Linked DNA regions of Homo sapiens: regions 1, 2, 3 and 5 are each linked to region 4. The links come from fine-mapping of genetic effects on gene expression. A gene starts in region 4. Each other region holds a variant in brackets. All regions are shown on one strand. Distances are from middle to middle. Region 1 overlaps MICU3 (mitochondrial calcium uptake family member 3). Region 2 overlaps MICU3 (mitochondrial calcium uptake family member 3). Region 3 has its middle 16 kb from the start of ZDHHC2. Region 4 holds the start of MICU3 (mitochondrial calcium uptake family member 3). Region 5 overlaps MICU3 (mitochondrial calcium uptake family member 3).

Region 1 (5,000 bases), 41 kb before region 4:
ACAAATAATGATACTTATAAAATATTCAAACTAGAATATAAAATAACATTAACATAGATAAACTATAATTTTAAGGTATTACTTGTGATCTTTGCTATACTAGTGTTCCATGACGTAATTCACAGGTCAGGTCTCTCTAGGATGAAGAAGGATTGGGGAAAGAAAAAAAGAAAGGAAAGGGAGGCTAGGCAAAGTGATGGGGAAACTTGTCCTGTTTCATTACTCTTCCCTACAACTATTCAAGAAGCATCACTGGAGTAAGAGTGTTACAGCTGAATAAAATGTCAGGGATCACTTTCTTTTTGTGATTCCTCCTCACACCCCCAAAGATCTCAAACACTGTAAAACTTAAAATGTTGGGACAAATGTATAGTCAGTATTGCTATTTCCTTTGCTCACATTTGAACACTGTAAATATTTAATGCCTGCCTAAGAATTAGCACCAGGTTTACATTTGATTAAGCCCTGTAATACAGCTGTATTAGGAAACTGGTTAATATTAATTATTTCAGCTACATTACAATAATGCCAACCAACATCTTCTTCTACCTGGCAATGGGGCTATTTCTGTATAATTAACAATATATCAAATTCAAAATTACAAAAAAAGCAATTTTTGCTGTGTAGTTTTTTCTTTATTAGGCAACAAAACAACTCAATTTAAAATCAAAAGAGAAGAAATATGTTTCTAAGGATAGATTTCTTCTTTATGTAGCAACAACATCCTTCATCTATCCAAGATAGTTGATACAAATGTGTAATCAAGTGATTCAAATCACAGGTCTACAAATTAGAATTTAGCATGTAAACTTAACTATGACACTGGTGCAAAGACACTTCCCTTTTAACAATGAACAGAACAATACAAATAGTATTTATTATTCTGTTGCTCTTAAAATATAGCAGTAAGGAAAGAAGAAAAATAAATGGTAGAAAAGTACATGCACGTGCTCTTATGCAATGCTCAGAAGGTATTTATCGGAAGAGGAAGTTAGAGGTACTCTTGAGTTTTGCAGGGTTTATGAGATTTCCATGGTAAATTATTCACAAAAGACATATTCATTCTGTCGGAAATGTCACCATGTTCAATACTATTATCTTTTTAAATAAAGACTAAAGAGCCATTAAGATTGCTCTTCAAAGGATTTTCTGAATTCCTTATTTCATATGAAGTTACTGCACATATAAATATAACTTAGGTGAAGAAGGACTTCAATTCTAGTGGAAATATTATTTCTTAAGCTGTAGGTTGATGTTCATTATATTTTTAATACGTTTTTGTATGTCTGAAAAATTTAATATATTTTTAAAAATCTAAATTAAAATAATTCTTGATGCTATGTTGGAAAATAATTACTGATTTTAGTTCTAGAAAAGAAAGTCACCATTTAGGTTCTATTTAAGTATGCAAAATAAGATTATAATGCAAAATCATAATCAACAGATATCTCAACATTTATTTGATCTATAATTTTTAAGCAAATATTTACACAGCATACCATTTTTTCCCTGTTGAATGTCATCATAAAATGATATCAAAAACTTTCAAAAATAATGGCTATGATTTTAAACAGCGAAAAAAATGGTGTGCCGTGTAAATATTTGCTTAAAAATTATCACAGCTATGGGCTGGGCATGGTGGCTTACGCCTGTAATTGCACCCCTTTGGAGGCCGAGGCAGGAGGATCACCTGAGGTCAGGAGTTTGAGACCAGCCTGGCCAATATGGTTAAACCATGGTGAAACTCCAGCTCTGCAAAAATACAAAAATTAGCTGGGCATGACAGCAGCTGCCCGTAATCCCAGCTATTCAGGAGGCTGAGGCAGGAGAATCACTTGAACCCAGGAAGCGGAGGTTGCAGTGAGCTGAGATCACCCCATTGCGGTCCAGCCTAGTTGACAGAGCGAGTCTCCTCTTGGGGAAAAAAAAAAAAAATCATGGCTATGAATTCTGATGACGATGATGATGACATACCAATATTAAATGTTTACTGTGTGCCAGGTACTATACTAACCATAATTCATTCGATCTTCAAGAAAAACTTCATGAGGCTGTTATTTTTATAAATGAGGAAACAGAAGATTAAATAACCAAGTTTTCAAAGCCAGTAAATGCCAAGGTTTAAACACAAGTCAAATTTCATTACGCTACAGTTTTAACATATCTGATTTAATACTCAGTACATGAAACATTGTTCTATTCTTTTCCTTTTCTAAAACCCCAACTTTCAAAACAGGATTTATGAATATCTTGATCTTTTGTGATTGTTCCTAATTATGTTTGAAAAGTGCTGGTTAGAAATTAACTGAAGTTGTGGTTGTAAAATATCCTGTATAACTTTTCTATAATAGAAACCAGTTTTTTACTCTTAAGTTATGGTTTTAAAATATCTATGAGAAGAATCACCACAAAAGTTATTTCCAAAAAGCAAAATCGAACAGTGTGCTTCCAGTGAATGTATTCTGAAGAAAAAAATTCTAGAAAATAATGAAGTAAAATTTTTCAAAATATGAAACTGTGGCCAGGCACAGTAGCTCACGCCTGTAATCCCAGCACTTTGGGAGGCTGAGGCAGGTGGACTGCTCGAGCCCAGGAGTTCAAGCCAAGCCTGGGAAACATAGCAAAACCCTCTCTCTACAAAAAAATTTAAAAAATTAGCTGGTGGCATGGTGGCATGTGCCTGTAGTCCCAGCTACTTGGGAGGCTGAGGTGGGAGGATCACTTGAGCCTCGGAGGTTGAGGTTGTAGTGAGTAGTGATCACGTCACTGAACTCCAGCCCGGGGGACAGGGCAAGACCCTGCCTCAAAAAAAAAAAAAAAAATCTATATATATATATATATATATA[TAG/G]ATTATTAACAATCACTTAAAGAATAGCTTTCAAATATGTTTGAAAAAATTATAGAATTTGATATAAAATACCATTTAGCATCTAACAAATTCCTTCCTTCAAGAAATATTTATTGTGTACCTATCATGTGCCAGGTAACCATATTCTACCTTGGAGATGGTTCTGTATCTTACGTCGTCTTATAATATCGTAAGTTTCCTGAGTGCACAGACTTTGTATCCCCCTTAGCACACAGAAAAGAACCTTAATACAGAAGCAGACATATAAATATTCCATACATTTTTATTTAATTGATTTGGTACAACATGGTCTCTATATTTATTAGCAAATTAGTATTAAATCTATACTAACTCACTAATAAAGAATCTACATTGTACCAAATGGATTAAATAAAAAGGATATAACACTTATCACAGCCTTAAAATTCGTAAATAAAAAAAAAAAGAACTCTACTTAATTTTTCACCTTTCCCATCACTATATGGCCCTACATATTCCCAAAGTGGCTACTATGACTATACCATATACTGTCTTGATTTCATGTTTTTGCTTATGTAGTTTACATTTCTTTAAACGTTACTCTCATAGTTTCTTGTTAAAATCTTTTTTTTAATTTAAAATCTTGCATAATCAAAAGTGTCTACTTCAAATTCCATTACAGCTACCTTTCAGTTCCTTTCTCTTTTGCAATCAAATATTGTAAGAGAGTCCTTTACACTCATCGTCTTCATTTCTTCATCTGCTACTCACTCCTGCAATTGCCCTAATGACTCCACTGAAACATCATTTTAAAAAACCATCAATAACCTTCATGTTTTTAAATCTAGTGGACATTTTCCTGTTCTTATCTAACTTGAATTCTCAGTAACACTGCACTCAATTGGCAATTCTGGCTATTTTACTCGGCTTCCATGACTACATACCCTTATGATTTTCTTCCTATGTCTCTGGCCACTCCTATGTCCCCTTTTCTCATCCTTTCAAAGCCTTTTGTCCATTCATCTTTTAAAGAGCAGAAATTCCTCAAGGCCTAGTCTTTGGTTATCTATATTCTCATCCTATACAGCTTCCCTAGGCAATTTCATTCATACACATTCTATGAATTAGCAATAATGCAAAGATGAATCCTAAATATATACCTGAATCTCTTCCTTGATATCCAGTGGAAATAATCCAAAGAATCAAAAATTCATTAAAAGTTACTATGTCAAGTAGCCAATTTGTCAAATTATTGAGGATTTATTTTAAGGTTCATTTTTGCCATATTGCTGTCTCTGGAGGAAAAAATGGCTATAATTGTTCTAGTCTAAGTTAAAGTATTTGTGTGACAGTTTAAAGTAGATATGGGTCGAACAAATGATTATTTGTTATACTGATTTTTAGTGAGTGATCTTTCAGTGAAGTGAAATGAATTATTTTTTAAAAAAATACACTGTATCCTTTTATATATCCAAGGTATCTCAAATAGACATGACCAAAATTGAAATTGTGATTTTTCTCCTCAAACCTGGTCCCTAGTGCCATCCATCCAGGTAAGCCAGCCAGAAATCCTCGGTTCTCATTACTCTTTTACCACCATCTATAGAGACTTTTGAAGCTGCAACTACCACCAGCCAATTGTGATACAGTATCAAAGGAGAGTACCTATAATAATCTAAAAAGGCAATTAAAATACTCCTTTTTTTACTGTCCATGTCTGTGAGGTAGATTTTCTTCATATATTTCATGGAAAACAACATATTATAACAGATCAAATAAAAAAGCACACATGAGAATACAGCTGTCTTCTGTTAAGTTAGATATTAAGAGATTTGCAAGAATGTACATACTTCCAAAAATTTTGAGAACCATTATTCTAACATATGAAAAGGTGAGAGACAATGAAACTATTAATATATTTACACTGCAGGAGCTATGACAAACGCAGAAGAGATACAGGTAGAATTCTTGCCCAGGGCTAACCTCAAAGCCAGTCCTCTGAACTACTCTGTTCAGGTTTGATATAAGAATGAAGAGGCAGAATATGAGTCTTTTATAAAGAGTATCAAAAGTAAGATGGTGTTAAGCTGAGAAAGATGGAGCAATTGAAAGTTTCTGAAAAGAGAAGAGATGTGAGTAAGAGTTTGTAAGAAATATCAGTCTGTAACACTGA
Region 2 (5,000 bases), 24 kb before region 4:
CATTTATAATTTTTAAGGCCTCTAATTGTACAACGATAGTTACCAGACTATGGGAAGGGTGAGTGGGGGTTGGGGAAATGAAGACAGATTGGTTAATGAGTACAAACACAGTAAGATAGAAGAAATTAAATTCTAGAGTTCAATAGCACAGTAGGGTGACTGTAATTAATAATAAAATTCAAATATTTCAAAATAGCTAGAAGAGAAGATTTGAAATGTTCTTGACACAAAGAAATGATAAATGTTCAAGGGGATGGATAACCTAAATACCTTGATTTGATCATTACATACTGTATGCATGTATCAAAATATCATACACACCCCATAAATACATACAAATATTATGTATCATGATAAAAAACAAAAAAAAATTTAAGTCTCTACTTGTATTATTATAGTAGCTTACATTATAGGGTTCTTTACAAGTTTATAAAGTACTTTCACATACATCATCTCATTATTTGATTGAAAGATGACATAAATGAAAGTCTTTTTCTCTAGAGGCAGTATAGCATAGTGGTTCAGCATGTAGACCTCCTCTTTTCCTGCCTATTCAGACTTTGGTTCAGCAATACTGCCCTGGCCCTGCCAACCTATTTTTTCCTCTTCCACTGTATACTTCTCCTTCAGCATAACGCACGGTGCTATTCCTCCCACCTTAGAAAGTGCCCTGTCCCTCCTCTCTATTTAGCTACCTTTGCTCTCCTCCCTGCCATTTTTCTCCTTCCCTTTACAGCAAGGCTACTGGAGAGTGTTGTTTACATTTCCTCTCATTCTCTTTTGATCTTACTCCAGCAAGGCTCTCTTCTCTACCATGCCACCAAAACTGCTTGTCAAGGTCATCAATGACCTCCTTGTTGCTAAATCCAAAGGTCACTTCTCAGTTTTCCTCTTATAGCATTTGACACAGTTGGTGGCTCATTTCCCCTTGAAATCATTTATTTTCTGTTTGTAAGATTTCACTGTCTTGCTTTTCCTCCTATCCCTCTGGGTATTCCTGTTTGGTATTTTTGCTGGTACTTCCCAACTACACTGCCCTAGGGCCAATCCTTGGACCTCCTTTCCTCTTTTAAATCTACAATTACCCACTTGATGATCTCATCTAGCCTTCAAATATTATAAATATGCTGAGAAATACAAAATTTGTCTCCTGCATTCCACAATATAAATTCCATGAACGCAGGAATTGTTTACTTGGTACACTTTAGTTTCCCCAGTGCCTAGAAGAGTTTTTGGCTTCTAGCAGGCTCTCAACTATTTGCTGAATAAATGAATAAGTGAATGTGGGTGTAAAGCTTACTATAATTGTTAAATGGTGATTGCTTTAAAAATTAAAATATAAAAAAATTAAAACATAATATTAAAAAACCAATACCTATGTGGTACTAATACTGTAGCTGACTTCAGAAAAATATAAGGTGGGGAGGGCCATGTAATAAAACATGTTCAATGAACTTTTTTGGAATAAAAAATTTTCTGATACTGATTTTTCCTCAAGTTTCAGATGTATATAAAAAACCATTTAAATGTTATGTGTAACCAATTGAAGACCAGAAACAGGATGCATGACTTTCAAACTACTCGAGGGAGAGAAATAATAAGAAACTGGACCAATCTAATGCCAGGTGATAAAGTGGTAACACATGCTCATAATAACACAGCAAAAATAAATGCAAACATGTTCTCAATCACAATAAATAGGATAGGTTTAAACCCCCCCATTGAAAAAGAGCAACTCTTATACTGCGTTTTTTAAAAAGCCATAAAAATGTCCCCTACAAGAGTCACTGTTAAACATTACCCAGAATGTTAAAAAATACATGGAATTAAGAGTCAAAAGCATTAAATGGGACAAAGAAAAACTCACCAAAAAGATATTACACACATGAACTAAACAGCTTAAAATTACATAATGGAAAAACTGTTAGAGAATAGCAATGAAAATTTATCAGTTCACAATCATGGCTGAGACTTGAATAGATCTCAACTAGAAATGGACAGATCAAATAGAGAAGCCAAATAAGAAAAAGGATCTGAGTAACAGAATAAGGTGCTTGTTAATTTTG[C/T]TTTTAATAAACAGGGACTATATAAACTGACCATTTATCAATCTTCACAAAAATATCAATAAAAATGGAAATTATATCAGTTTAATGAAATATTAATAAAGTGGTATATTTTACAGTAGTGAAAGTAAATTAACTAGAAGTACATGTGTCAATATGTATAAATTTCCTAAATATAATATTAAATAAAATATATACATTATAGAAGGACATATTATTTTTAAAATTCACAAAAATATATGTATATTGTTCAGGGATACAGCACTTGTAAGAAAACTGCTCATTACTTACTACATGTAGAAGTAAATCTTAGCGTACCATTCTGAAAGATAATTTTAAGTTTCTATTAAAATTTAATAGCTATAGATCCGACAATTCAATATTTGCATGTACTTAAGATCCCTGGATAGTCACTGCAGCATGTTTCCAATAGTGAAAAAATAGAAACAATCAAAATTTCCAGCAGCAGGACAATGGTTAAATAAATTATGGCACACCCATGGAATAGTTTGTGACTATGGAAAGGGGTATGGTAGATCTAGAGGTGCTACCATAGAAACAGTCACAAGATACACACTAGGGTGAAAAAAACAGGTTGTAGAAAAATGAGTAAAAAAACAAAAGTTCATGTCTTATAGGAATATATGTATGTAAAGATGTAGATAAATTTTGGAATGGAGTATTATTTTTTAAAAGGCAAGCAGACATATATTATTAGTGCAACTGTACAAAAGAGTTAACTTAATCTATAGGGGCCTTCAACAGGGTCACACAGGCAGCAAATGGGTCTGGGACCAGAACTTCAGTATTACAACACACAACCCAGTGTTTTTTCACATTACACAACTTGTTATATTGGAATGAAAGTATATGGGTTTTGCAATCCTTCCGGCCTACGTTCAAATGCCAGCTTCATCCCTTCCTAGTTAGGTTACCTTGGGAAAAATAACTTAACTTTCTGCAAACTTTAGCATTTTCAACTATAAAATGGACAAATAAATACTAAGCCCACAAACTGTAAAGATTAAATGAAAACTACATGCAAATACTGCCTTTTCCCTTGGCCCACAGAATCAAGAGACTCTACCTCTTGATGTACTATTAACTAGCTAGGTCCAGAAATAGTGTTTGGCTACTCAACTCCAGGCACAAAGTTTATAAATATCTAGAACCTCTGTGGCACTATAAGTTAGATATTCTCCAAATATGTCCAAGGAGATAAAACTATTCCTACTGTCTGGCTTTTTCTTGTGGGTTTCACTGCCTCATGCTCTACCACCCTTCCCTCGGTCTTCCTGGCTCAGTGTCCCAGGATACAATGGAACACTAGGCATAAATGGGTTAAAATTTTTACTTGAAGAGTATTGTTTAGAAATTTAGTCTCATCATCGAAGAGAAAAGTCTGAAATGTTCCCAGTCTGAAATATTCAGTTACTTATGAAAGAAGAGAAAACGGCTGACGTTCAAAGAAATGGAGTAAGTTATCCATCCCCGAAATACAGAACTGTGTACTGTTTATTTGCATGGATCCATAATAAGCTCATAAATTCCCAGCATATTACAGAGTATATGCACCCAGGCCAGGTTCAAAGACAGGTTGGGTGCCTTGCTCACGTCGAAAATCTCAGCACTCTGGGAGGCTGGGGTGGGAGGACCACTTGAGCCCAGCAGTTTGAGACCAGCCTGGGCAACACAGTGGCAACCTGTCTCTACAATTTTTTTAAAAATGTATCAGCTGGGTGTGGTGATGTATGAGGTAGTCCCAACTACTCAGGAAGCGGAGGCAAGAGGATATCTTGAGCCCAGGAGGTTGGGGCTGCAGTGAGGGGTGATCACACCACCATACTCCAGCCTGGGTGACAGAGTGAATCCCTGTCTCAATAAAATAAAATGAAATAAAGAAGTGGTAGTTGTGAAGAAGATTCAATTCAAAATCTCATCTTGAATTGTAGCTCCCATAATTCCCATGTGTCATGAGAGGGACCCAAGGGGAGGTAACTGAATCATGGGGGTGGGTCTTTCCCACACTGTTCTTGTGATAGTGAATAAGTCACACCAGATCTGATGGTTTTATATAAAGGGGCGTTCCCCCGCACATGCTCTCTTTCCTGCCTCCATGTAAGATGTGATTTTGCTACTCCTTTGCCTTCTTTAAGGCCAGTGAATTTCTATTTCATTTTTCTATCGTGTTTTCTTTTTCTTATTAATTTGTAGATCTACACATTTAGGATATGTAGTCCTTGTGAGGGCTATGTACTATAAATATCTTTTTCCATTCCAGGACTTCTTTTTATTTTATTAAATATTTTAAATGAAGTGAAATGTAGTAATATTTTCCATTCTAGGTTTTGCTTTTTATCTTGTTTCGAACATCGAAACATATATATTCCTCTAAATATCTCAAAGTTTTACTTATCACATGTAGGATTCTAATCCACCTGGATAATTATGACATGAAGAAGGGATCTTGGTTTCCCCCATGAAACACTTTAACTCGTCATGGCCCACTATCTTGCGTATCAGTTGTTCACTATTTGAAATCCACTTCATTGTAACTTCTTTTAAAATAATAATAATTGTTGTTGTATACAATCAATGGTTAAGAACTGCTCTCATTTTTACTAATTTCTTTGTTCTCCATTGCTTCTTGAATTTCACCCCTTTTTATGTTAATTCATTTCATTTCTTCCTGATATGCACTCTTCAGTGGTTCTTTCAATGATGATCTGATACTGGTAAACTCTCAGTCTCTTATGAAAATAAATTTATTTTGTTCTCATTCCTAAATAACTTACCGAGGTATAGAAATCTAAGTGGCAGTTATTTTCTCTCACTTTTGAAGATATAGCCCACTGTCCTCTGGCTTCTGTCTGTTGCGATGGATTCGTCTATAATCAGGTCAACTGCAGTCCCTTTGTAGGAAGTCTGTCCTGTCTC
Region 3 (6,239 bases), 110 kb before region 4:
CTACTAAAAATATAAAAATTAGCCGGGTGTGGTGGGAGGCACCTGTAGTCCCAGCTACTCAGGAGGCTGAGGCAGGAGAATCACTTGAACCCAGGAGGCGGAGGCTGCAGTGAGCCGAGATCACACTACTGTACTCCAGCCTGGAGTCAGAGCGAGACTCTGTCTCAAAAAAAAAAAAAAAAAAAAAAAGCCTACTGAATTCCTTATTTAGAAAGTCAATATTATCTTTAATTATCTCTTTTAAAATAAAAAATAACAAAATTATATATAGCAGAACAATACATCACAGTTATAGAGCAGAAACTCTGAAAACAGAGAAAGATAAAAACTTCCCATGATTTTACCAATTAGCACAACCATTGTTATTTTAGCTTGTTTCCATCTGGTCTTTTTGTGTGTTTTCTTTTTAGAGTTGAAATGATAGCCTACATACAATTTTGTGTTCTCATAAATATTTCATTACAAACATTTTTTTCATGCTGCTATACAGGCTTCAGAATTATTTTATTAAATTAAAAAAAAAGTTTTTTGAGACAGGATCTTGCTCTGTTATTCAGGCTGCAGTGCAGTGGCATGATCATAGCTCACTGCAGCCTCCAACTCCTGGGCTCAAGTGATCCTCCTGCCTCAGCCTCCCAAAGTGCTGGGATTACTACCATGCCCAGTCTAGAATAATTTTAAATATTTGCACAGTATTCTATTCTGTAGAAGTACTATAATTCATTAAACCATTCCTTTATTGTTAATTATGTAGGTGTTTTCTAATTTTTCACTGGCATAACATACCATAAATAACTTGGCTCATCTAACATTCCCCTTCTATTTAGTTGTTTTCTTTGGACAGGGCCCCAGAAGTAAAATTAAATCAAAGAGTCAGTTTGAAAAACTATGTAGCTGTGATGATTTTAAATATGTGCACAAATTCTTTGATACTTCGCCTTTCAAGAAGTGAAGGCTCATCCCCTACCCTTGAGTGCTGAGTGGACTTAGTGTCTTAGTCCATTCTGGCTGCTATAATAAAGTATCATAAACTAGGTAGCTTCTAAACAACAGAAATTTCTTTCTCACAGTTCTGGAGGCTGGGAAGTCTAGGATGAAGCCACTGGCAGATTTGATGTCTGGTGAAGGCCAGCTTTCTGGTTCCCTCAAAGATGATTTTTCTCTGTACTCTTACATAGTAGAAGTGGCCAACGCGCTTGCTGGGGCCTCTTTTATAAGGGTGCTAATTTCTTTCATGAGGGCTTCATCCTCAGGACCTAATCACTTCCCAAGGCTCTGATATGGTTCAGCTGTGTCCCCACCCAAATCTCATCTTGAATTATAGCTCCCATAATTCCCACGTGTTGTGGGAGGGGCCCAGTGGGAGATAATTGAATCATGGGGACGGTTTCCCCATACTGTTCTTGTGGTCATGAATAAGTCCCACGAGATCTGATGACTTTATAAGGGGAAACCCCTTTCACTTGGCTCTCACTCTCTCTTTGCCTGCTATCATGTAAGATGTGCCTTTTGCCTTCTGCTATGATTGTGAGGCCTCTCCAGCCACGTGGAACTGTGAGTCCATTAAATCTCTTTTTCTCTATAAATTATCCATCTTATGTATGTCTTTATCAGCAGCGTGAAAATGGACTAACACAGGCTCCACCCCTAAACGCTGCCATCACCTAGGGGTTAGGGTTCCCACATATGAATTTTGGCAGAACACAAACATTCAGACCATAGCACTTAGTGACTCACTTCTAATGAATAAAATAAAGCAGAATTAATAGTGGGAAATTTCAAAGACTGGTTCAAAAAAAGACACCACGGCTTCCTCCTCAGCCTCACATCACTTGAGCCGTGAGAAGTTAGCTGCCCTGTTGTCATGAGCAGCCCCATCGAGAGGGCCATGTAGCAGAGGATGGGGGTCGCCATGTGAGTGAGTGTTCTGGAAGTCAGTCCTCCAGCTGCAGTCATTCCTTCTGATGCCTGTAGTGCGAGCCAACAGCTTGACTGCACCCTCAGGAGAGACCTTGAGTTAGACTCACCCAGCAAAGCTGCTCCTGACTGACTCAGAAACTGTGGGAAATAATGTTTGTTTTCTTAGGCAGCTGCAATTTGGGGTAATTTGCAATGCCGCAATAGATAAATAATACAGCAACAACGGAACTATTGTTTTGGAACATTTGTTTAACTCGGTTCGAACATGAGGCACTTAATGAGCATCCCAACTCCAGTTAAACGCAACAAATTACTGCCATTTAAGGTACATGTAAAGAGCCAGTGAGGGACATAGGGAGGACGAAGAGGGAGAGAAAAGGGAGAAGAGAATAAGAGAGGAAGAAAGGAAAAAATAAGTTAGCAAGAGAGGGACATGGGAAAGATGACTACATGTCCTAGTTTAGCTTGGATAGTCCCAGTTTGGAGCACTGTCTTGATGTAATTCTGAATAGAGTCCCTTTTCACTTTCAAAAGTGTCCCGGTTTGGATGATAAATTATATGACCCTAGATATAGGCCAATAATACGCCTTCCCCCAATCCAGTTCTTCGCTTTAATATTCCGTCTTTTCCCGATACCTCGTGCCCATTCTGCTCCAGCTCCACAGCACTGCTCAAGAGTCCTAAATTTCCCACCAAACCATAGTCTCACTGGCACCTCTTCCATGGCTTAGAAGTCACCTCTGTTTACTTCCCAGTACTCTTGCATCACAGTAAGGAATTCATCATGGTGGTTAAGAGCTTGGCTCAGGAATTAGACAACCTGGGTCTGAGTCTTGGTTTTATCCTTATTGCTATATAACCCTAGGGAAATTACTTAACTTCTTTATGCCTCAGATATGAGCTGGGGCATATATTATCTACTCTCTCATAGGAATGTTGAGGATATTAATAACAGTATGTGCATAAAATGCTCAGCATAGTATCTGGCATTATATATGTATATATATGCTAAGCATTTTATATGCATAATATATGTGATGACTGTATGTTAGCTACTATCAGCATTTAGTACCCGAGAAAAAAATCCATCTCATGGAGATGCTTTTTTTATTGTTGTTTTTGAGACAGAGTCCTGTTCTGTCGCCCAGGCTGGAGTGCAGTGGCGTGATCTCGGCCCACTGCAACCTACACTTCGTGGGTTCAAGCGATTCTCCTGCCTCAGCCTCCTGAGTAGCTGGGACTACAGGCGCGTGCCACCACACCC[G/A]GCTAATTTTTTGTATTTTTAATGGAGACAGGGTTTCACCGTGTTAGCCAGGATGGTCTTGATCTCCTGACCTTGTGATCCACCCGCCTTGGCCTCCCAAAGTGCTGGGATTACAGGCGTGAGCCACTGAACCCGGCTGGAGTTGCTTTTTAGTTGCTGGGACATGCATCTTACTAGAAAACTCTCAAGTATGTCATTGTATTTTTGTTTTAATGTTAGGAGGTAGAAAAAGTTAGGAAATGTGTCAAGCAGTAAAGGAAAAGTCAAGCAGACTATATCTACCTTTCAGGCTTGATATGCCTTACTTTGCTTATTCATTCATTCATTCACTTATTTTTCAACAAATATATATTTGTTATCTATCAAATACCAGGCACTATGCTAAGCACAGGATTAAACAGCACTTTTCAAAAAATAAATACCTAGAGCTTTATTCCCATTTCTTAAAGGAAAATCTTACATTAAAAAAAGCTATTGTGTGGCACTACTAAATAAGTAGGGGTTTGAAGCCAAATTTAGAAATTATATATAGACACATATATGTTTTTCTGATGATCAAATCTTTCAAATTGGCTTTGAACAAACAGGAGCAATTTTCTGCTATAAAAAGGAATGTATTTTAGCTTTTGACCTAATGATTTAAAAAAAAAACTAAGAGTGGGAAAATGCAAATTACGTGAATATATAATTTGGCATCGGTGACATATCAGCAGAAGGAGCTGCTGACAGGAAGACAGTTTTTTTTTTCTTTTTAGCCGTAGGCATTCCTCATTTCTGTTTTTAGGAACAAGGAAAACTAGTAGACAGAAATATCCCTGGGTACATGGACTACATATTTCACATGCACAGCATAAAATATTTAATAAAACGAAGGAGGTGCCTGAAAAATCAAGACTTCAATAGATGAAGGTGGTCACAACAATTAAAATACATCCTTTCTTCCCCCTCATGGCACAGGATAATGAGGTATGGAAAAAACATGTAGGGTTGCTTTAAACTATTTGGCAATATTTGCCAGATGAAATTTTGAAAAAACATTTTCTTTTCAGCGTTTTCATTCCACTTGAATAATGAGTACCACATTATAGGTTTCGATAGCCCATGAATTTTTATCTTTATTTTAATCGTTAAGGTCAAGTTAGCATTGATTACTAATAAGTGATTCTAAATGAATAGTATTATTTTAGGAATAATAGGAACTAACGTTTATTAAATGTTTACTGTGTGCTCAGTTCAGTGCTTTAAAGGCGATTTCCCATTTAATTCTCACCACCACCCAAGGACACAGCTGCTATCATGATCTCATCTCACACATGAAAAAGCTGAGAGGTGGAAAGTGTTACGACCTTGTTTAATTACAAAGGAAGTTAGCAAAAGAGCCAAGATTGGAACTCAGAGAAGTCTGACTCCAGAGCCCATGCTTACCCGCCATGCTATTCTGAATGGAAGGGCTCATGTAGTTCACCTGTTTATTCATATTTTCTAATTTGTTCTTTTTGAAATAGTGATTCCTGTTCAGATTCCACTTTTAATCCTTGCCCATTTTCTCAATTCTATGAAAGGCTCATTTAACTTAATAGTTATGCAAGTCCACACCTGTCTGAATGATACACTGGCTCATTCATTTAGTTGAAAGGTAGACACCAAATTGATTTTTAAAAAGACATACGAACCTAATTGAAAAAAAATTCATGAATCACCTTAATGAGGAATTGGTACCAGGAAATGCAGTACAGAGAACCTCAGACAATTTGCTTTTGGAAAAGCGCTAATCAACCACATATTCATCTGGAATGAAAATGCCTCTCTAGCAAGACATTGTGTGATAATGAAGTACAGGAGGTGAGAGCCGTCTCAGTGACTTTTAATTATTTCTCATTCTTCTGTGTCTGAAGACGATGGTGCGTATATTACCGAAAAGTGAGGTGACCAGTATTCTTTCCAGCATTGGGTAAATTAAAGACAAAGTGGACATCATTTGCAAATTCTTGCATTTTTTTCTTTGCAGCTGTTGTTCATCATTTCCTTCCCTAATTTGTTCCAAGATTAGCTGACTTGTCACAGTCATTTCCTCGTGGTCCACCACCCTGCCATGACGGTTGAAGGTATGTTCTGTGTTCTTTAAACCTCTATTTCTTTTTTTCCGAAACAGCTTCTGCCTCATTCAAAATAAAAACATTATAACATCTTGCTATTATCTATTTTACATACATTTACATTCTGCTGGAGTTACACCCTTTTTAATGCAAACCTCTTTGGAATTTGGTTGTTGAGTCCCTCATTCTTATTGATGAAACTCAAGAAATCAGATCAGACATCATAACTCTTTAAACATCAAATTCTCTTAAGAGTTTATCACTATGTGGGTGACATCTTTGGTATCATGAGCATTTTTACCATCTTAATATTCCTTCCTCCATTATAATTCTGAGAAAATCAAAATCCACTTCCATGTAATAGAAAATATTACTCTTGGCTGGGCATGGTGGTTCATGCCTGTAATCCCAGCACTTTGGAAGGCTGAGGCAGGCGGATCACAAAGTCAAGAGATCAAGACCATCCCGGCCAATATGGTGAAACCCTGTCTCTACGAAAAATACAAAATTTAGCTGGGCGTGGTGGTGCGCACCTGTAGTCCCAGCTACTCAGGAGGCTGAGGCAGGAGAACTGCTTGAATCTGGGAATCGGAGGTTGCAGTGAGCCGAGATTGTGCCACTGCATTCCAGCCTGGCGACAGAGTGAGACTCTGTCTCAAAAAAAAAAAAAAAAAAAAAAAAAAAAAAGGAAAAGAAAATATTACTCTTTCCCTTGTCTGTTTCTTACCATCCTGTATTTATCCAAACTTAGACATACTTACACACTTGGATACTGGCCCAAATTTCCATATCCCAAGAAAAGATGGGCTACATAGTTTTTGAAGCCCAGTGTGAAATGAAAATACAGGGCCCCCTTTTTTTTTTTTTTTTTAAAAAAAAGCAGGAAATAGTGTGGTTTAAGGTATTAAATATAAAACTTTTTTCTTCCTTCCGTGGTCTGTCTCTCTCAACTTGTCGT
Region 4 (6,102 bases):
AGCCAAAAAATAAATTTATTTAATGTTCTTTAGTAGTACCATTGTTTTAAATATACTGTGTTAACTCATTTAACTCTCATAACACCCCAGGAGACTATTAGCCTCATTTCACAGGTGAGGAAACAGGCATTGACAGGTCAAGTAATTTCTCCATAATGACACAAGTAGCAAGTCGTGGAGCCAAAGTTCTAGCTTTCTGAACGTGGTCTTTTTAAAAACTGCAAGATAACATCTCTCAACTGTAAAAGTAAAATTAATTTTAAGAAAGAAAAGAAAATACTACTTGAATTCCCTACCTTGCTGATCTGTTCCTAGACCAACTATGGTTAATTAAAAGTTCTGCCATCATGAAAAACGCTATGCTCCTTGCCAAGCCACAAAAGTGGATGTGTATTTGTGAAGGGGGAGGGGGTGGAGATTTGAGGGTATTTCCTAGTATTTTGAATATTCATGTGTAAAAGGACTTTATGTTATGTGCTTGTGATCTGCTGCTAGATAGTCCATAAAGCAGATTCCGTAACCTAATTGCATTGACAACCTCCACCAAAGGAAATGATGCACTTACATCAGATCACCACTGCGTATTAAGAACAAAGCCTATAAAAATTGCATTAGAAACAGCATAGCTCTCTGTTTTCTAAATTATTTTCATCTACGCCGTTCACATTCTTCGAGCCTTGCAAGGAAAATCTCCTTAATTTTCCTAGTCATTTACATGACTATTAAATATACTGATGCGACAAAAAAAATCACGCTCCTTTACTCACTGTTGCCTTTCACACATCTTTACCTTGTATTATTAACTACATAATGACAGTTGAACATTTTCACGTGACTTTCTTCTGTAGGAGTTTGTGTCATTCACAGCCTCCTACATTTGCTATCCTATCCATTTTGTGTTTTATCGTTACCTACTAACGGGATTCTGGCTTTAGTGGGGGAAGGAAAAAGAGAGAAATACTTATGTCTCTTTTTGAACAATTTTTTATTTCTTTTCAGACCTGGTAACATCAACATTCCCTGGGTATGATAAGGGCGTTAGCATGCAGGTTTAGCATTTCCTTTCTTGGGACTAATAAATTCTCATATGCTAAAGTAGTGGCTTTTGAGATCTCAGACCGCTGCTTCGAAACTCATTCTAATGCAACAGACCTCCTGGGTCATTAGCTGTCGCCCCGCGCAATCTAGGAGTTCCTTTTTCCCACACCTACAGCGGTCCACTTTCTGCCTGTCATGGCCTTCATTTCTGAATCTTTTTTTGTAAGAGGGGGAGGGGTGTTGGTTTTGGGTTTGGATTGATACTTGGTAGCTGCAGCCACCTTTAAGGTCCTGATGCATCAGGGACAGCATCACTGGTCTTCCCAATACGTGGGTGACCGGATCCTAGGCTGTCCGGCCTAGGTGTCAGCCTCGCTCACGGGAAGTTCCTCACCCGCGGCCACAGCGCTTGCACCGTCCCCACAGCCTCCAGGGTCCTGCGTACCCGGCACGAAGGTCACATCCCCCGCGCAGGTGTGACGCGCGCTCGCGCACTCACCGTCTCCTTGGCAGCCGCCACTGGGATGGGCAGCATCCCCCGGCCGCGGGGCGGGTCCTCGGGCTCCGTGGCCGCGCTCTTTGAGGGTCGCCCGGTCGCCGGCGAGCCGGCCCTGGGGTCCCCGTACAGCTGGTAGCATACCAGGCCGACCAGCCCCCCGCCGGCCGCCGCCGCCACGCTCAGCTCCCCCCAGCGCCGCCGCCGCCTCCATGCCGCCTCCGCCACAGCCCTCTCCTCATCCTCTCGGGAGGAGAAGGGCCGGCCAGGAAGGCCCAGGGTGGTCACCGCAGGCCGCCCCCACGGCCCAAGGAGGGGCTGGTGAGCGCAGAGTGGAGGAGACACCCGGGGTGGCGGCCACAAGAGCCTTCGCAGCGCAGCCATAGCGGAGGCCGCCCACACCAGAGCTGGGAGGGGGCAGAGAACGGAGGGGCGGGGGCGGGGGGGGGGGTCGCCGAAATCTCGCGAGAAGTCGGTGCCGCGAGCTTCGCGGCCGGCCGAGAGCGACCCCTACACTCGCGCGGCCCCGGGGACCCGCGACGCCACCTTCAGCGTAGCGGTCCCGTGGTTCGGCCCGGGAAGATCATGGAAGAGGCGGCGGATCCCGGCTGCTCCCCGGCCCCGAACCCCCAGCCCAACCACGCAGTCATAAATAACCGCGCCAGCCCGGCGACACCTGGCTACGCGACAGCGCGACACTGCGGGCACAGCCGAGTCAGCGTAACTGAGGCGCGGCCGAGTGCGGGGCTCTCTGGGGCCCGCGCCGCTGCTACGGGCGGGGTGGGTCTCCGAGCTGGGCTCAGCGCCCGTCTGGGACACTCACATTCCCTAACGGTCTCCTGACCTCAGGAAACTCAAGGTCTTGACTCAAGGTCGTGAACGATTTGCAATTGTATCTTCACATATACGACACAAATGAGGTATAAGCATTTGGCTCAAGTCATAACGATTGCAAATTAAGGCAAACACTTTGACGACTGAAGGGCAGCTTCCGGACTTTTGATGGGAGAAGGCTAATGCTGTTTTTTAGAAGCATTAGCACACCCGCGGTCACTTAATTCAACAAATCAGAACTGTCTTGTGCATATAAAAGTTAAAAATTTTAAAACTTCTGTGAATAAAGATAAAATCTTGAACGATACCCTGATTTTTCAGGGAAGCGCTGTTTGTATAAATATAAAATAAATGAGAAGCGTATTGTGTCATCTTTTTGTTTTTACTGTACTTTTTGTTTGCTATGTTATCAGTATCAGTTTTTATGAGAAAGTGTAGATGAAGTTCCTATCAGTTTCTCTCCCCAGACCCCAGTTTTGGTAACTTGAATTATGTTAGCTTTTTCTTCCTACTATGGAATGGTGCCAGGAGTCCCTAAAATATTGTGGATCTAAGGGGACAGACAACTAAATACAGTGGTCTCAATTGGGCTGCAGTGACAAGAGAATACACCATCAGTTGATTCTGGCAATTCTTGTAAAGACTAAAGGCTTTCAGAGACGACCAAATGAGTTTTTTCTGGCTCAGGTCCTACAATTTCTTCCCTTTTTTTTTTCTTTTTTTGAGACGGAGTCTTGCTCTGTTGCCCAGGCTAGAGTGCAGTGGCACATTCTCGGCTCACTGCAACGTCCGTCTCCCTGGTTCAAGCGATTCTCCTGCCTCAGCCTCCCGAGTAGCTGGGATTACAGGCACCCGCCACCGTGCCTGGCTAATTTTTGTGTTTTTAGTAGAGATGGGGGTCTCACCATCTTGGCCTGGCTGGCCTCGAACTCCTGGAGGTCCTGCAATTTCTATTCCTAACACCTTGCATGTAAATAGCACATCAGGTACACCCTGTTACCTCTTATTTTAATAGAGGTTAATGGCATTTTGCTTTCTTAAAGCTGCTAAAAGCGGTAAGAAGAAAAATCTTCTGTAGCAGATGAACAAATTTTGTGTATTTTAAAACCTGTCTCTGAGTTTTCTTCAGTTTCAGCCTGTGGGTTTTATGGAGTCAATGCCTAAGGAAGACTCTGATAGCGTCTTGCTTTATCACCAAATTTTCCTCAATTTATGCTTTCTCTATATTCTGTGAAATGGTAGTTTCCCCAAATAAATTATCTTCTGGGTAATAATTATATATATTATATATAATATAATAATCATATTGGCCGGGCGTGGTGGCTCACACTTGTAATCCCAGCACTTTGGGAGGCCGAGGCGGGTGGATCATGAGGTCAGGAGATAGAGCCCATCCTGGCTAACACGGTGAAACCCCATCTCTACTAAAAATACAAAAAACTTAAAAAAAAAAAAGCCAGGTGTGGTGGCATGCGCCTGTAGTCCCAACTACTCAGGAGCCTGGGACAGGAGAACTGTTTGAACCCGGGAGGTGGAGGTTTCAGTGAGCCGAGACTGTGCCGCTGCACTCCAGCGTGGGTGACAGAGCGAAACTCTGTCTCAAAAAAAAAAAATTATAATAATAGTTCTGACACTGTTTACTTTGAACTGAACATGATTTCCTGATTTTCTCATAAATTCTTATTATAGTCTAATGCCAGAATTCTTGGACAAACTGATCAATTTTTACTAGTTGCATGTTAAAAGCTAAGTAGTTCTAAAGAAGATTAGGGAGGTAATACAATAACATCACATTACAGATGAGGAAAATGACATCCTTCATCTAAGATGACAAATACAGACACATACGTATAGATTTCTATGTAGTTTCTCTATAGTTTTCTAAATTTGATAGAGCTCCTGCAAACAATTTATCTGGTTAGAAGCTAAGTACTGCTGTGAGAAGGGCTAAGTTTATGTTTGTAGATCAGTCAGAGAACTTTGGATAAAATACCTCTCACGTGCAAAAACAGCTTTACTAATAATTTTCAACAGTACTTTCCCTCTAAAGGTGAAATTTCCTTAAGAATAGTTACTGTTTTCTTCCCACGTTTGATGCTCTGTAACTATAGCTACACAAAAATAACCAAATTCCCTTGTTATGTGGATATTTTTCTGAGTTTAATTCCCAGAGGAAAAATTTTAAGAAAATATGATATTAGGAATTTGGAACCTTTTTTTTTTGAAATTTCAGGTAATATTGTTGGATCAATATAGAGTCAACCCAGTATCCCTTATCTTTTATGTCAATTCTACTGAGCATTAAGAATAACCCCCAAAATGCCCCTACTCCACAGTGAGAGCCCACACCTTGAAAGAAATATCCACTTATCGTTCACTATGGTCTAAATAAAAAGAAATGTTCTGAAACAATAAAAATGTTTCAAACAATGGGGATTAAGCCAAAAAGGGTTTTCCAGGAAAGCATATACCTCAGTGAATAAGTAATAAATTAGAAGTGAAGAAATCTGGACTCCAGTCTTGGATTTGCTGCATCTTAATTATAATGCTTTGGAAGCCACAGTCTCTAAAATAGTGGAGTTGAAATAGATGATCACCCCTGAACCCATCTTTCTAATGAACTAAAATGCTCCAAGTGTATCAGTAAACCATAGAAAGATACTTCATGGTATTTTTCATGTATCATTTCTCTTCTGAAAATCTACAATTGGCCTAAGATTGTTTTATTCTTTCAACTTAAAATTCCATCCCCGGACCACGCAGGCTAACGTCTGTAATCCCAGCACTTTGGGAGGCCAAGGTGAGTTGATCACTCAGGAGTTCGAGACCAACCTGGGCAATATGGCAAAACTTCGTCTCTACAAAAAATACAAAAATTAGCCAGGCATAGTGGTGCGTGCTTATGGTCCCAGCTACTCGGGAGGCTGAAATAGGAGGATGGCTTGAACCGGGGAAAAGGAGGTTGCAGTAAGCCATCACTGAGCCACTGCACTCTAGCCTGGGTGAGAGAGCAAGACTATGTTTAAAAAAAAAAAAATCCATTCCTTTATCTAATTATTTTAACCTTCTACTGCATTTAAAATTGCAAATACGTTAGTGATTTTGAAAAGTTTGAAAAAGTGGAATATAAGTGCAATAGGCAGGAATGTCTTGTTTAACAAAACTTCTATTAAAATATACTGCATTCCTTATTTTGGTCATTCTGAGCTCCAGATTCTTGACTAGTTAAAAGAGCAGCAGTTACATCTGAGATCTGTATCAGGGCACATGAACCACCCCATCCCCAGGTCCACTCAAGTCTACCAGCAGAGAGCAAGGTTGCAACCATCTTCTTCTCTCTTGGGAAAGTTGTCATCATTTTCTCAAATTGCCTTCCACCTTCCATGCTGTCTTCCTTAGGGCAAAACTGACATAGGAGACAGTGTTGGGGAAGGTATGTTCTTGCTCTGTTTTCTTCAAAGTGCTACCCACCAGCAATCTAGAACTCAATTCCTCAGCATCCAGGGCTATGGAAACCAAGTTACACAAGACACTGAGGGTCTGTTTTCTGTTTTGATGAGCTCTCATTCCCAAAGACTGTGATCTGTATCTCACCCTTTTTCCATTAGGCAAAGCCAAGCTGACTCTAAGCAACATGAGGCCAGGGTATGCATCTTCTAGCCCAGTTCCTGGCACACATTAGGACCTCAATTATATTTACTAAATGAAAAGCAATGTCTTGAAAAGGGGGGAAG
Region 5 (5,000 bases), 55 kb before region 4:
ATAGTTTAAAAGAAAGATGATAAGCGCTCTTTCCCGTAACAAACCTCCTTCTTGCCTGGGGACTAGATTGCCTTTGTAGGACTAACAAATTAGCCACAAGATTAGAAATTATGGTTTAGGAGTCATGCAGCTGGAGCTACAAGATTCTGACCCTCCCTAAATTGCTCCTGGGGATAACATCACTATTGTAAAACCTAAGACCTATGCTTGAGATGTTTTGCAGACCCCACACTTGATGGATCAGCTGTCACTACACAGAGCGATAAACTGGCTCATCTGGTCTTGTGGTCCTCACGCAGGAACTGACTCAGCTCAAGAGAAAAGCTTCAACTCCCTATGATTTCATCTTTGACCCGACCAACCAGAGCTCCTGACTCACCCACCCACTACCCACCAAATTATCCTTAAGAACTCTGATCCCTGAATGCTCGGGAAATTCATTTGAGTAAAAATAAAACTCCAGTCTCCTGTACAGCCAGCTCTGTGTAAATTACTCTTTCTCTGTTGTAATTCCCGTCTTGATAAATTGGCTCAGTCTAGTCAGTGAGCAAGGTGACAAGTCCAAGAGAAAAAAATATTTTTTGAAATACACATATGTGAGTGCATGTACACATTCCTTGTTCTCAAAACTTACTGTAACAGAACTCAATGTTAACGTCATTCCTCGCTAAGTTACAAAGTTAAGAATAACACAGTGGTGTGAATTTTTTAATCAAAGAAGTACAAGGTATTTTTAGATTGTTTCTAATGACAGAGTTTTACTGATGTTCTTGTTTCCATGCATCTCCACATATCTCCACAACTGGAAATTCCACTAGCAGTATTCTTTCATGTATTCCTTTCTTCATTCATTCACTAACTACTTTTTGGAAGGGTACCATGTGCGAGACACTGTTCTTGATACAGAGATGAACAAAAAAGAAAAAATCTTTGCCATAATGGACCTTGCATTCAAGTGTGGGGAGACAAGAACATGTAAACCAATAATACTTTCAAATAGTCTGATATGAAGAATATGCAACGCAGTAAAGAGATACAAAGAGAGAGGGAGCTATGTTAGAGAGGCTGGCCAAGTAAGGATTTGCTAAATTTTCACATTTGAAAGGAAACCTAAATGATGTTTATTATCACGGGGATCTTGAGGATAAGTACTGATGGCACAGGAAGCAGAAGGTACAAATCCCTGAGGCGGCAATTCAAGGAATAGAAAGGCCAGGTGGCTGGAACACAGTAAACTATAACAGATTGTCTCCATTAAATGCAAAGAAATTTAACTGAAAACATAGTAAACCCTTCATATATTTCCTAAGAAATGCTGCACCTGACAGGGAGAAAATAGAAGTTTTAGATGTGAATGATGGGTATTCTGATAGACTCAATAGTTAAGAGACACTCTCTCTCACATCAGTCTGGCAGAAAATATGATTCAAATGAGTACAGTAGGGAATTTATAAATTATTACATGTCATGACCTTTGGAGTCTGAGGTAGATTAAAACCACAAGAATTGACACGTAATATTAAATTTATAATTTATGAGCATTTATTACTATACCATAAGCTGTAGCATTTATGTTTTTGACTCTTTACAGTGCTATGCTTAGCATTTTTCTGTAGCATTAAACATGAATTTTGCAGAACAGCATGGATATTGATTTTCAAGAGTAAGAGAACCTAAGATCTGCTTTCCAAGATTCGTTTAAAAAATAAAGCTGCATCCAGAAATAAAAGCAATAAGTATACTTACTTGTTAAAATACATAAAAGAAAAAGATATTCTGTGTAAGAAATCACACCTACAAGAAAAATAGTATCAGTTATATATATAAAATATTGTTCTAGAAGCAATAAATGCTATAAATAATGAGCTTGTAGTTTAAAATAGATGCTAGATATTATTTTAAATGACAATCATTATTATAAAATCATAACAAAAGAAGCAACAAATTTAATTTTACTTTAATTGTTCCACATGCCTTTGTAGATATCCATATAAAATCATTATGCTCTCAAATATATTGGCAAAAAAAGCAAAATTATAATGCATACGTATAGCAGTAACTTTTAAACTTGTTGCTAGTTTCTAATGTACGACTCTTAACACAAAATAAAAAAGTTGTCAAGTCCAACAGAGCTTAAAGGAAAAAACAAGTAAAAATAAAAAGGTTGGAAATAGTTAATTAACACTGTAAAGTGCTTAATTACTTTTTAGTAACACTTGGATAAAACACTTAGACCCTGTTACTTAGAAATGTGATGTTTCGCATTTTAAGAGTAAAGCTCTATAGTTACCACTTTTCTGCTTTCAAATTATCTTCAATGCTTCT[A/G]TTAAATGTACCCTGAGGAGTTTTTATTGTAATTAAATGGCTTATACTTTCTGTACATCGCATCCTGAGTTCTCAGTAACTCCATACTTGCAAATTTCAAAAGGAGTGCTTTTGAAGTAAATAAAAAAGTGCATTCTGTTACTTGAATTCTTGCTTTTGGAATACAAAACCCAAAACTAGATTTAGTGCTTCAACTGACCTTCCAAGTAGATACTGAGAAGATTGACATCAGTAATCTGTATCTACAATACTTATTTAGATATCAGATAGTTCTGACGCTTGGTAAAAGGGTATAAAAATCCTTAAAATAACCAGATTGTGAACTTTAAAACTCCATTTTATCTGATGTTCTTTGAGGCTGTCTTCTTTGTTACAGAACAAAGAGAAGAGGAGTCACTGTCAGGCAGTTTGTCAGAGACATGAAGGGCACTAGCCAGGAGGCCCTGAAAGCATTCATTCCCTTCTTTTGTTTATACTAGAATATTGTGACCTATAGACAGATAGTTCTGGTTGATTGCCATGAATGTTATGGGAGAAAGATTCTGGAATGGTCAATGTATATAAAGATACAATACTTAAGAGTCTGTAGGGATCCCTCAAAAAATGAAAGAAGAGCATAAAAGAAGGGGCGAGAAAAGGAAATGGGATGGGAAATGGGCATGCTGTCTCCATAATCCCATCTCACTAACTGTTGTTCTAGTTGACCTGGTAGAATACACAAGAGATGTTGGTTGGTATAAAGAACTTTAATAACTGTTATGCATCTTTTATTTGATAGTTAACTCAAGATTTCCCTCAAGGAAAGGACTACTTAATAGTGAGTGTCCAGACCATGAATATCATGGTAGGCGTTTGTCTGTAGGATCACATGGTGATTGAAGTGGCTTAAACCACAGGGAAGAAAAATGAAGTGAAACCCATGATATATTATAATTTAATAAAAATGGTCAAGGAAAAGAGAAAATACTACTGAAGATGAACGGTATATTTTTAATGCTTTCCAATTATACAAACAGAATACTATAAAACTAACTCTTCAATTTATTTATGGCGTGCAGGATCAAAAAATACAAAAAAAAAAGCTAGGCATATAGTAATGGTGTGATCTTTAGAAACAGAGGATAAGAAAGATGCCAACTAGGTTTCTTTCGAAAATTCAATCAAAACAAATTTTAAGGGAAGTTCCTTAAAAGCATTACATGGTTTAATTCCTATACACAATACATTGCAGTTGGCTGTTATAATTAAGTCTCTACAATACATGTTTTCATGAATGCATATCAATTTTTTTATTATTTAAATGCATAACATTTTCTCTCGAGGTAATATTTTAAGTAGATAAACTTACAATTTTAAAATTAGTCTTTAGCCAGGCATGGTGGCTCACACCTATAATCTCAGCACTTTTGGGAGGCCGAGGCAAGAGGACCGTTTGAGTCCAGAAGTTCAAAACCAGCCTGGGCAACAAAGTGAGACTTTGTCTCTACAAAAACTCAAAAAATGAGGGGGAAGAATCGCTTAAGCCCAGGAGGTCAAGGCTGCAATGAGCCATGATGGCACCACTGCACTCCCGCCTGGGTGACAAAATGAGACCCTGACTCAATAAATAAATAAAATAAAACAAAAATAAAAATAAAATTAGTCTTCAATAGCTCTAAAGATTTAGTCTTAAAATTTCTCTGCCACTTAATCGCTATTTAAAAAAAGCAAGGCTCTTCTAACTTCTCTATTTTACCTAACCTAATGATTCTAAAACTTTCTGGGATCATGCATCACCCTGATGATCTAATTAATATGATACAGATACGCATTGTACTACAGGGTGTAGCTATTTAAATTTAAAATACTTAAAATCAAATACAACTAAAAATAAGTTCCTCAGTTACGCTAGACACATTTCAAGTGCTCAACAGCCATATGCGGCTAGTAGCTACCATAAGAGACAGCATAGAAACAGAGTATTTCCGTCATAGTGGTGCAGCATAGATTCTATCCCCTGGGGAAAAAAATGCAAACATGTGTATAACATGAGAAGGATTAGGATATGCCTAAACCTAGGACTTCCAGATTAAACCCTCCCCTTAACTTAAAAAAGGTTCTTTCTTCTATGCATTATTTTTCTCAGATTATATTTGATCCAATTTGTATTTTCCCATGAGGTATATTAAGAAAAATGTTTGAAATTCACCATACTTACTTGATCCTTATGAGCTTTGAATTTTCCTCATCCTATTATCTCACCCTAAGATCTGAATGGCAATCTTTAAGACAACATCTAGGAAAAAAATTTCTAAGATTTTTTTTAAGACACTTTGGCCTAGGTTTCTTGAAGATTTAAAAATCTTACTTATGAAACACCTACAATAAAAGATATGGTGTCTCTTCCTTTCAGATTCTATGTAAACCACGTGGAAGCAATATGAACTTTCTAATTCTACTTAAATAAAATATATGAATTATAACTACTCCTTCAAAGTATTTGTCTTCAGGCTGAAGTACATTATTTTCAAGCCAATATTGGTTAAAATTGATGAAAAGGGAAAATATAACTGCTTATGTAATTTCTTTAACATTTTTATTTTGCATATTCCTGTATTTGAGGATACAAAAAATACATTTCCAAGAAATATTACTTTTTAAGATTAAAAAGATTAATAAATTTTTTCTACAAATGT

Evidence for each region.
Region 1: its variant is fine-mapped to the expression of MICU3 in whole blood (INTERVAL, PIP above 0.99).
Region 2: its variant is fine-mapped to the expression of MICU3 in whole blood (TOPMed, PIP above 0.99).
Region 3: its variant is fine-mapped to the expression of MICU3 in whole blood (INTERVAL, PIP 0.99).
Region 5: its variant is fine-mapped to the expression of MICU3 in whole blood (TOPMed, PIP 0.99).

What each region holds. Positions count from the first base shown.
Region 1 is chr8:17,064,366-17,069,365 of GRCh38, reverse strand. The region is part of intron 2 of MICU3 (mitochondrial calcium uptake family member 3); the gene reads right to left. Among named protein-coding and RNA genes, the nearest start is that of MICU3, 40 kb to the right of the region's middle. The variant TAG/G (reference allele first, on the strand shown) is at 2,847.
Region 2 is chr8:17,047,576-17,052,575 of GRCh38, reverse strand. The region is part of intron 1 of MICU3 (mitochondrial calcium uptake family member 3); the gene reads right to left. Among named protein-coding and RNA genes, the nearest start is that of MICU3, 23 kb to the right of the region's middle. The variant C/T (reference allele first, on the strand shown) is at 2,067.
Region 3 is chr8:17,137,435-17,143,673 of GRCh38, reverse strand. It overlaps a transcript of MICU3 not described here. Among named protein-coding and RNA genes, the nearest start is that of ZDHHC2, 16 kb to the left of the region's middle. The variant G/A (reference allele first, on the strand shown) is at 3,186.
Region 4 is chr8:17,023,096-17,029,197 of GRCh38, reverse strand. It overlaps MICU3 (mitochondrial calcium uptake family member 3), which reads right to left and starts at 1,960. Exons shown (of 15, transcript NM_181723.3): 1 at 1,538-1,960. The coding sequence starts at 1,918. RefSeq lists an enhancer at 1,333-1,422 and a silencer at 1,573-1,982.
Region 5 is chr8:17,078,487-17,083,486 of GRCh38, reverse strand. It overlaps MICU3 (mitochondrial calcium uptake family member 3), which reads right to left. Exons shown (of 15, transcript NM_181723.3): 5 at 1,747-1,794. Among named protein-coding and RNA genes, the nearest start is that of MICU3, 54 kb to the right of the region's middle. The variant A/G (reference allele first, on the strand shown) is at 2,326.